Linked DNA regions of Homo sapiens: region 1 is linked to region 2. Evidence: fine-mapped expression QTL. A gene starts in region 2. The other region holds a variant in brackets. All regions are shown on one strand. Distances are between the middles of the regions.

Region 1 (5,365 bases), 50 kb after region 2:
CAAACAGTTCTCCAAAGTGGTTGTACTATCTCTGGTTACTTTAAAATAAATGAATATAAGTATTTATTGTTTGTGGTTGAAATATTCAAAGACACAAGATGAAAAGTGGGACTCTGCTGGGTGTGGTGGTGCATGCCTGTTATCTCAGCACTTTGGAAGGCTGAGGCAGCAGGACAGCTTGAGGCCAGGACAAGCCTGGGCAACATAGGGAGCTGTCTCTATTAAAAAAAAAAAAAGTAAAACAATTAGCTGGGCAAGGTGGTGTGCTCTTGGGGTCACAGCTACTCAGGAGGCTGAGGCAGGAGGATTGCTTAAACCCAGGAGGTGGAGGCTGCAGTGAGCCGTGATCATGCCACTGTACTCAAGCCTGGGCAACAGAGTGAAATCCTGTCTTTTAAAAATTAAAATTGGCCGGGCGTAGTGGCTCACGCCTGTAATCCCAGCACTTTGCATGTCTGTAATCCCAGCTACTCAGGAGGCTGAGGCAGGAGGATGGCTTGAGCCCAGGAGGCAGAGGTTGTAGTGAGCTGAAATTGCACCACTGTACTCCAGCCTGGACAACAGAGCGAGACACAGTCTCAAAAAAAAAAAAAAAAAAAAAAGGAGAGTCACAGAAGAAACACCAAATCTTACCCTGGGCACTGGGATGATGCCTCATGTCATGTTGCCAAGCTGAGACCTGCCACGCATTCTCTTGCTATTATGTGGCCATTCAGGCCTGAACAAGAGCCAGGACCCAAGGGGTTTGCAAGAGTCATGCCTGAGTTTAATTAAGTGGGACAGATGTGCTATTTAGAACCAGGACACCTGGGAGCAAGTTTAAAGGCTTGGATGTGCCCTGCCTGTGATGAACTTTAGCACAGACCAGCACAGTTCCCTAATCCTCTTAATTGTTCATACCATTACAAAAAGTGCAAATCTAAAACAGAGATGAACAGAAAAAAATTATTGCATTATCGTTAATCTGACCACAGTGGCTAATGTTGCTTGAATAATGCATTTGGGTGCTTTTAAAAGTCTGCAGTCAGCCTGGGCAACATGGCAAAACCCTGTTTCTACCAAAAAATACAAAAATAGCTGGGCATGGTGGTTTGCACCTGTAGTCCCAGCTACTTGCAGAGGGGCTGATATAAGAGGATGGCTTGAGCCTGGAAAGTCAAGGCTGCCATGAGCCAAGATCACGCCACTGCACTTGAGCCTGGGTGAAGAGCAAGACCCTGTCTCAAAAAAAAATTAAATAAATAAAATTTAAAAAGTCTGTGATGTTTTATTTTTTAATGTGGGGAAAATATTAAAAAGTAAATTGGCCGGGTGCGGTGGCTCATGCCTGTAATCTTAGCACTTTGGGAGGCTGAGGCGGGCAGATCACGAGGTCAGGAGATCAAGACCATCCTGGCTAACACAGTGAAACCCCATCTCTACTAAAAATACAAAAAAAAAAAAAAAATTAGCCGGGCATGGTGACGGGTGCCTGTAGTCCCAGCTACTCGGGAGGCTGAGACAGGAGAATGGTGTGAACCCAGGAGGCAGAGCTTGCAGTGAGCTGAGATCGCACCACTGCAGTCCAGCCTGGGCAACAGAGCGAGACTCCATCTCAAAAAACAAACAAACAAAAAAAGTAATTTAAAAATATGTAGGTCGTGGTGGGGCACAGTGTCTCATGCCTGTAATCCCAGCACTTCAAAAGACTGAGGCAGGAGGATTGTTTGAGGCCAGGCATTCAAGACCAGCCTGGGCAACATAGTGAGACCTCATCTCTACCAAAAAAAAAAAGTTAGCTGGGCATGGTGGTGCGCATCTGCAGTCCTAGCTACTCAGGAAGATCATTTAAGCCCAGGAGTTTGAGGCTGCAGTGAGCTGTGACCACACAATTGCACTCCAGCCTACATGATGGAGCAAGAGCCTGACTCTTAAAAAAATTTTGTTTTTAAATAATTGAAAATACTACTCAAACACACATGAATCTCAAAAACACGATGCTGGCCGGGCACGGTGGCTCACACCTGTAATCACAGCACTTTGGGAGGCTGAGGCGGGTGGATCACGTGAGGCCAGGAGTTCGAGAACAGCCTGGGCAACATGATGAAACCCCGTCTCTATGAAAGATACAAAAATTAGCCGGGCGTGGTGGTGCACACCTGTAGTCCCAGCTACTTGGGAGGCTGAGGCAGGAGAATCGCTTGAACCTGGCAGGCGGAGGTTGCAGTGAGCCAAGACTGTGCCACTGCACTCCAGCCTGAGCAACAGAGTGAGATGCTGTCTCAAAAAAAAAAAAAAAAAAAAAGGCCGGGGCGTGGTGGCTCACGCCTGTAATCCCAGCACTTTGGGAGGCTGAGGTGGGCGGGTCACCTGAGGTCAGGAGTTTGAGACCAGCCTGGCCAACATGGAGAAACTCTGTCTCTACTAAAACTACAAAATTAGCCAGGCGTGGTGGTGGGCACCTGTAATCCCAGCTACTCGGGAGGCTGAGGCAGGAGAATCACTTGAACCCGGGAGGCGGAGGTTGCAGTGAGC[C/T]GAGATGGCGCCATTGCACTCCAGCCTGGGCAAAAAGAGTGAAACTCCCTAAAAAACAAAAACAAAAACAAAACAAACAAAAACACTATGCTGAGGAAAAGAAGCCAGACACCAAAAAAACCATATGCTGTATGACTCCACTTACAGCACTCCTGGGACAGACACACTGAGCTTTGGCTGGAAAAATCATTACAGTGCTCACCTCTGAGAGCTGCGGCGGGGACCGACTGGGAAGGGGCACAGGGAGGCTTTCTAGGATGATGATATTGTTCTGTAACTTGTCGCAGGGGTGGGTTACACAGGTGCCTGCCTATGTCCAAACTTATCCTTATCAGACCGTTCACTTAAGATCTGTCCATTTCACTGTATATAAATGTTTTATTTTAACTAAAAAATGAAAATGTAAAAAAAAGGAATAAATGAATAAGTAAATCAACACAACCCACTTCTTTCTCCTTGGCAGCTCTGCTAACCAGATCCCCAAATGGGCAGCTTTTTCTTGGGCCTCCTGGGTCCAGCTACTGTCACCTCCCCACTAGGCTCCCAGCTGCCACCTCACCCTCTGCAGTCTGTTCCCCACCAGGCTTCCAGGGGGAGCCTGGAAACAACCTATGTAGGATCCTGACGCTGTGTTCAGCACCCTCCCATGGCTCCCATCTCTCAGATTAAAGCTGGAATCCATCCTGGCCGCACCTGTGGGGCTTTGCACACCAGCCTCCAAAGCCCCCTGCCCTCTTGCTCCTCACCTCCTCCTTGCTTTTTTATTTTTATTTTTTTGAGACAGAGTCTTGCTCTGTCGCCCAGGCTGGAGTGCAGTGGTGCGATCTCAGCTCACTGCAGTCTCAACCTCCTGGGTTCAAGCAATTCTCCTGCCTCAGCCTCCCAAGTAGCTGGGACCACAGGCACGCGCCATCACACCTGGCTAATTTTTTTGTATTTTTAGTAGAGATGGGGTTTCACCATGTTGGCCAGGCTGGTCTTGAACTCCTGACCTCAGGTGATCTGCCCGCCTTGGCCTCCCAAAGTGCTGGGATTACAGGTGTGAGCCACTGCGCCCAGCCTTACTCACTTTCTGAAACAGATTAGAGCCTCCCTCCACGATGACTGTTCCCTCTGCCCAGGAGGCCGTTCTTGGCCAACTGCTTGTCTCACCCCTCACCCCCTTCAGGTCTGTTCAGACATCCAGTTCCCAGAGAGGCTCCCCCAACCATTGTAAGCGACAGCCAGCCGTTTCTGCACACTCACCTTGCCTGCCTATCTTCCTGTTATATTTTTCACGGCAGAGCTCCCCACCCCTCCACCTGTGTCTATATAAGGTCTGTCCTCACTCAAACGTCAGGCTCCAGGAAGCCAGGACTCTGTCTTGCTCCTGGCTGTCGTACAGCAGATTCTCAACGAACCTTGCTTGAATGGCAGCATGGGCAACCAGGACACTTTGCCCTCGAGCCCTGCTGGTGGCATCCACAGCTCTCCATCTTCCTGCAAACACTCCGGGCCAGCGCCTCCCCAGACGCACCCCTGAACAGAACACCTCCACCCGGGGCGATGAGGTTTCTTTGAAGAGAGCTTTCATGTGCCCCAACCTTGGATTCCCCCCATTTTTAGGGCACGTAGGCCTTTCATACTTTACTGACAGCCTGGGTGTAACCAGTAGGAGTGACTATTATTGTGGGAGGTACTTAAACATCTTGGTCAAATAGGGCTTTTCCCATTGTGGGGGTGTGGGGGCACCCAATAAATAGAGCTTCATCCAGATGCTTCTATGAGTACACGGCAGTTCCTAACGAGCTCCGCGTCCTCAAATCCCAGCTTCCCTTTTGGTCTCTTTCGCATCTTTCCTCATAATCTCCATTCACTTTCACAAAACCTCAACCTGGACCCCTAAGGACACTTCCGTTTCCCCAAGTCTGAATTATTCCACCTGAAGCTCTCCAACCTGTATTATTAATAGAATTCTTGGCTGGGCGTGGTGGCTCACGCCTGTCATCCCAGCACTTTGGGAGGCTGAGGTGGGCGGATCACGAGGTCAAGAGATCAGAGATCGAGGCCATCCTGGCCAACATGGTGAAACTCCATCTCTACTAAAAAAAATACAAAAATATTAGCTGGGCGTGGTGGCGCACCCCTGTAGTCCCAGCTACTTGGGAGGCTGAGGCAGGAGAATCGCTTGAACCCGGGAGGCAGAGGTTGCAGTGAGCTGAGATCATGATACTGCACTCCAGCCTAGGAGACAGAGCGAGACTCCGTCTCAAAAAAAAAAAAAAAAAATTCTCAGGAGAAACTGTTTAAGACGCAGATAACTATGTACAACCCCGAAGAGATCCTGAATCAGCAGGTAGAGCCACGAAATGGTACCTTGAACAGATTCCAAGTGACTGATGTAGTGGCCACCCTGGTTCAGGAGTTCCTGGGGAGGGGCAGGGGAGGGCCAGAAGAAAACTATATTTTTAGCTAAAAGACCTCAGCTTCTGGCTTGGCATGGTGGCTTACACCTGTAATCCCAACGCTTTGGGAGGCCGAGGTGGGCAGATCACTTGAGCCCAGGAGGTAGAGGCTGCAGTGGGCTGAGACTGTGCCACTGCACTCCCACCTGGGTGACAGAGCGAAACTCCATCTCAAAAAAAAAAAAAAAAAAAGACCTTGGCTTCTGTGTGAGGGAATAGGAAGGGAGGGAAAGGTTTTCATTTTCCAGCTGTTTATAAAAAAATAAACTGGTACTTTGAGGTAATTTGCGTCACCAGATACCTATTCTAGAAACCCCAAGATCTGTGGGACATCCTTCCACATCAGTGGAAAGCCATTCGCAAAGAGGACAAACGGCTTCTTCTCTCATGGATCATTAACAATTCTC
Region 2 (5,316 bases):
GAACAAAACTTTAACAAGAGAATAAAGAGGGTTGTTAGGTGGAGACGTGGCCAGCACTCCACCTCCACTTTGAAGTTCAGAGGCAGAGCATCTCTCCCTCCCACACTTGGAGGGAGGGCCCGTGGGCTGTCTCTAGCCCTCACCTCACAGCTGGTCTTCTTGCTCTCCCTGCTCAGCTTCTGCTCTGGCCTCGGCCCTCAGCACCCTGAGGTTCCTGGCCTCTCCTGCCCTGGGGACTCTCTTGGGCAGGGTTGGCAACCGGGGAGTGTGCCAGAAGGCTCTCCGGCGCTTGCAAAACCACGAAAAGCGTCCAGGGGTCTGGAACCTCACTGTCTTGACCTGTTTCCGGGCCCTGGCTCCTGGAGCTGTTCCTGTGGTCCCTTGGGCAGCTGAGACTTCAGCTTCCTGGATACCTGGGGCCCCTGCCCTCTGATTATGTGCAGCCTCTGCCCTCTGGCCAGCCCGGGCCTGTGCCCTCTGATTATCTGCACCCTGGACAGCTGGGGCCCTTTCCCTCTGGTCATGTACGGCCTCTTCCCTTTGATTATCTGTAACCTCTGACCCCTGGTCAGCTGGGGCCTCCGCCCTCTGATTATCTGCAGCCTCTTCCCTGTGGTTATCTGTGCCCTGTGACCTCTGGTCAGCTGGGGCCTCTGCCCTCTGATTATCTGCAGCCTCTTCCCTCTGGTTATCTGCAGCCTCTGCCCCCTCCTCAGCTGGGGCCCCTGCCCTCTGATTATCTGCAGCCTCTTCCCTCTGATTATCTGCAGCCTCTGCCCCCTGGTCAGCTGGGGCCCCTGCCCTCTGATTACCTGCAGCCCCTTCCCGCTGGTCAGCTATGGCCTCTTCCCTTTGACTATCTGCAGCCTCTCCCCCCTGATCAGCCTCGATGTCTGCCCCCTGACCTGTGGGTGCTGTCTGCTCCTTCCTGCGGCGCCGAAAGGAGGCCCAGTTGATCTTGGGCCTCCATCGCCTAGGGGAAGCCTGGGGCACACAAACATCTCCCGCGTTTCCCAAGCGATCCCCCGGGCTGGTGCCCTCTGGCGCCGATGATACCCCTGCGCTCTCCACTGCGGTGGAGGCCAGCCGGGCCTCGCCCACCCCGGGGCCCGCCCTCGGCGCCCAACCCTTCACCCTCCGCTTCAGCTTCCCCCAGGACACCTGGCTGACATACTCCCGCCACCTGTCCGCTTTGGACAGCTGAGGCCCCAGGTTGTCCTCAAACATGGGCACTGGCAGGTTGACGCGGCGGCGGGCAGGCGGCGCGCTGGGCTGCTTCTCCTGTCGCCGGAGGAAGGCCTCGACCAGTTCCTCATCATCCTCACTCTCCAGGTCGCTTCCCAGGAACTTGCTGCCCAGGTAGCTGACGGGCATTTTGCGCACCTTCTTGCCCCGCCGCGGGCCCTGGCGGCTCTTGTCTCTGGAGGTCTCGAAGTCGCTGAACTCGCTGTCGCTGGCGTTGCTGCTGTCGTACGTGCCCACGACCAGCCGGGGCGGAGGAGTCACCATCTGCTGCACTCTCCTCCTCACTCGGGGCTCCTTGGGCTTTTTGGGGGGCTGGGGCGGGTGCGGGGTGCTCTTCTCCATGATGCGGGCCACGTCCTCCAGGGTGCGGCCCTCTTCTTCCAGGAACTGGGTCAGCCGCTCCCGAAATTCTGCTTCCTTGGTGGCGGGCTTAGAGATGACTCTCCAGACGCCCCCAGCCAGCCTGACCTCCCGGGGGATGAGCAAATAGTCGACGTCCTCCCCGATCTGCAGCATCCCCACCGTGGAGTCCTCCTCCTTGCGGAACACCTTGCCGATCTTCTTAAATGTCCCCACGGGCTTTAGGGCTTCCACGAGGACGTCCAAATCCACATCTTTGCAGACATCGGGGACGCTCCAAAGAATGAGGCAGTCGGGGGACGGCAGGAAGCCCCAGGGGAACCAGCCCCCCACGTGGCTTTTCTCGAGAGTCTTTAAGATCTCCAGGGTGATATCTGGGGTGAGGGGGCAATGAGCCCCAACAAACTACTGTAGCCCTTAGTCTTGAGGGAGGGACTGGATGGGGGGAGTTCCAGCAACGCTGACCGGAGAGTCTCACCTCCCTAGCCAGGGACGAGCCAAACGCCTCCAATCTCTTCGCCTGCAACAAGTACAGTCTTGACCAAGTCCGGCTCCCCCACCAAGGACTTGGGGGAATCAATTTCCAGGATGCCTACGTGAGCCGGGGGCGAGGTCAGTCCCAAGGCTCAAGGCCCACTCCAAGCTGGAAACGTGGTGTCCCAGCTCCAAGTTGGGGCGCGCGGGCTGCCAGCGACTCTTCCTGCCCCAGGCCCCAGGGACGCGGCTGGAACTTGGGACAGGACTTCGCAGACAAAGACGGTCCAGTCGAAGCTATTCAATATGGCCGAGGCGCTGGGAGGCCCCAGCCCGGGCCTCCAGTAGGGTCCCCCGCCCCCAGGCAGGCCGCCACCCAGCTCCAGGCTGACCTTGACGCGCCGCAGCCTGCCAGCCCGCGCGCTTAGAGCTCTGCACCGTGGAGCGCGCGGGCAGGAAGTTCCTCCTCGCCCTCCGCCAGAATGAGGCCCACCTTCCCCCGTCTCATCTTACACTCCCAGACTCTGGAAGACTGACAGGGGGGCTGTCCACTCCCTTCGGGGCGGCCTCCTTCCCCTCCCCCACAGGGGTGTGGCCGCGCCCCGGGCCTAGCTGGGCCCATTGCTTCCCAGCGAAGCGGCAGTGGCCCACGTCAGCACCTTTCCTGAAAGGCAGCGGTTCCCAAACCTGCCATCCGAAATGTGCAAGTTTCCAGCCAAGTCCGGGAGGTGGGTGTGCTAGTGGATTCTACTTTTTGAGAGCCACTGGCACCACAGATTAGCATTTTAAATTCACGCGACTATCGGTACCCGTACACCTATATGCGTGGGTAGAGAAATGGGTACCTGACTGCAACAGTCCCACTGTGGCGCTTGGCAGGTCAGGGCTCAATACATATTTTTGAGGGGATGAATAAACCCAAATGTTCATGGCCAGGCGCGGTGGCTCATGCCTGTAATGCCAGCACTTTGGGAGGCCCAGGTGGGTGGAACACTTGAGGCCAGGAGTTCGAGACCAGCCTGCCCAACATGGTGAAACCCTCGTCTCTACCCCGGGTGTGGTGGTGCGCGTGCGTAGTCCCAAGCTACGCGAGAGGCTGAGGCAGGAGAATGGCGTGAACCTGGGAGGTGGAGGTTGCAGAGATCGCGCCACTGCACTCCGGCCTGCGCAACAGAGGGAGACTGTCTCAAAAAAACAAAAGTGCAAAAAAACCCCTACAAATAAACAACAACAAAAAACCCTAAAAGTTCACGAGTAGAGACTGCCTCTATTTTATGGTAGTATCTTACAGTGAAATATTTTGCAACTTCGAAAAAAGAATGAGATGGCTAAGGATAGGCACGGTTTATGAGGCGCTTCCTATGTAGTAGGCACCATTCCCAGTGCTTTCTATGAATGAACTCAGGAAATCCTTGCTATAACAGGAGACTGGTAGCATGAGTACAATTCCCATTAGACAGCTGAGGAAACTGAGGCCCAAGGACATAAAACCACACTCTCAAGGTCACAGCCATGGGGAGTGGTTGAGTTTGGATTTGAATCCAGAATAGTCTGCCTTTTGTGTCGACCAAAGAGTCAAGATGGCCAGGCGCGGTGGCTCACGCCTGTAATCCCAGCCCTTTGGGAGGCTGAGGCGGGCAGATCACGAGGTCAGGAGATCAAGACAAGACCATCCTGGCTAACGCGGTGAAACCCTGTCTCTACTAAAAATGCAAAAAAATTAGCCGCGCGTGGTGGTACGTGCCTGTAGTCCCAGCTACTCGGGAGGCTGAGGCAGAAGAATCTCTTGAACCCGGGAGGCGGAGGTTGCAGTGAGCCGCGATCGCACCACTGCACTCCAGCCTGGACGACAGAGCAAGACTCCGTCTCAAAAAAAAAAAAAGAAAGAAAGAAAGAAAAAAAAGAATCAAGATGTGAACCAATGCTAGTCGCATTCGGCCGGGAGCTCGGTTCTTGAGACGCGAGTCTACCGAAGCTCCCGCCAGTTGAGAGGCGAGTCTGCCGAAGCTCCCGGCCGAAAAAGCCAAATCCTTCCTTAACCCAGTGTCTGAGGGGTTTTGTCCGTGGCTCCTCCTGCTACAGGACATGCGACTAGCATTGGTCCACATCTTTGGAACCAGGCATCCAGAGACATGTTGAATAGGCCTCGTTGTTAGGAACCCTCAGAGGTACATGGTAAGGCCAGTGCCATCAATCATCTTTTTACAGACGGTGAAACTGAGGCTGGTCTGAAGTTGCACAGCTCTGAGTGGTGGATCTAATATAATATTAGAACCAGATCTTGGGCACTAGCATTTAAAACACTAGCTGACGCTAAAGACACAGCTAATCCCCTTCTCCTAAATGTGTTGCACCATTTAACCACTTAGCAGCCACAATACTTGCAGCCACTCTTGCCTGGATGTGTACAAAGCCCCCTCACTGGGCTTCCCGCCTCCCCATCACTGCTTGCAATCCAGGCCCCATCCAGAAGCTGGGGGCATCTTTTAAAAACTTAGGTCCGATCTGTCTCTACTCTTTTGAAAATTCTCCATCTCAGGCTGGGCGCCGTGGCTCACGCCTTTAATCCAGCACTTTGGGAGGCTGAGGCGGGCGGATCACCTGAGGTCCGGAGTTTGAGACCAGCCTGGTCAACATGGCAAAACCCCATCTCTACTAAAAAATACAAAAATTGCCGGGCGCGGTGGCTCACGCTTGTAATCCCAGCATTTTGGGAGGCTGAAGCGGGTGGATCACCTGAGGTCAGAAGTTTGAGACCAGCCTGGCCAACATGGTGAAACCCCGCCTCTACTAAAACTACAAAACTAGCCTGTCTTGGTGGCGCATGCCTGTAATCCCAGCTACTCCGGAGGCTCAGGCAGGAGAATCGTTTGAATCCGGGATTCAGAGGTTGCAGTGAGCTGAGACCGTGCCATTGCACTCCAGCCTGGGCAACAAGAGCGAAACTCCGTCTCAAAAACAAACAAACAAAAAAAAGAAACGAACAAAAATATAAGAATTAGCCGGGCATGGTGACACATGCCTGTAATCCCAGCTACTGGGGAGGCTGAGGCAGAAGAATCGCTTGAACTGGGAGGCGGAGGTTGCAGTGAGCCAAGATCGCGCCACTGCCCTCCACCTTGGGCGACAGAGCGAGACTCCGTCTCAAATAAATAAATAAATGTGATCTTATTTAACTCATAAAGGAACCAGGCAAATTTTTAAAGAGGGAACGGAGGAAAAAGAGACGGGCCAGAG

Evidence for each region. PIP is the estimated chance that this variant, and not a neighbour inherited with it, causes the effect.
Region 1: its variant is fine-mapped to the expression of CCDC8 in esophagus muscle (GTEx, PIP 0.97).

The regions. Positions count from the first base shown.
Region 1 is chr19:46,461,012-46,466,376 of GRCh38, forward strand. No RefSeq gene overlaps it. Among named protein-coding and RNA genes, the nearest start is that of PNMA8A, 7.9 kb to the right of the region's middle. The variant C/T (reference allele first, on the strand shown) is at 2,515.
Region 2 is chr19:46,411,050-46,416,365 of GRCh38, forward strand. It overlaps CCDC8 (coiled-coil domain containing 8 subunit of 3M complex), which reads right to left and starts at 2,515. Exons shown (of 1, transcript NM_032040.5): 1 at 1-2,515. The coding sequence starts at 1,761. The coding sequence ends at 145. RefSeq lists enhancers at 889-1,722, 3,389-4,222, 4,223-5,055.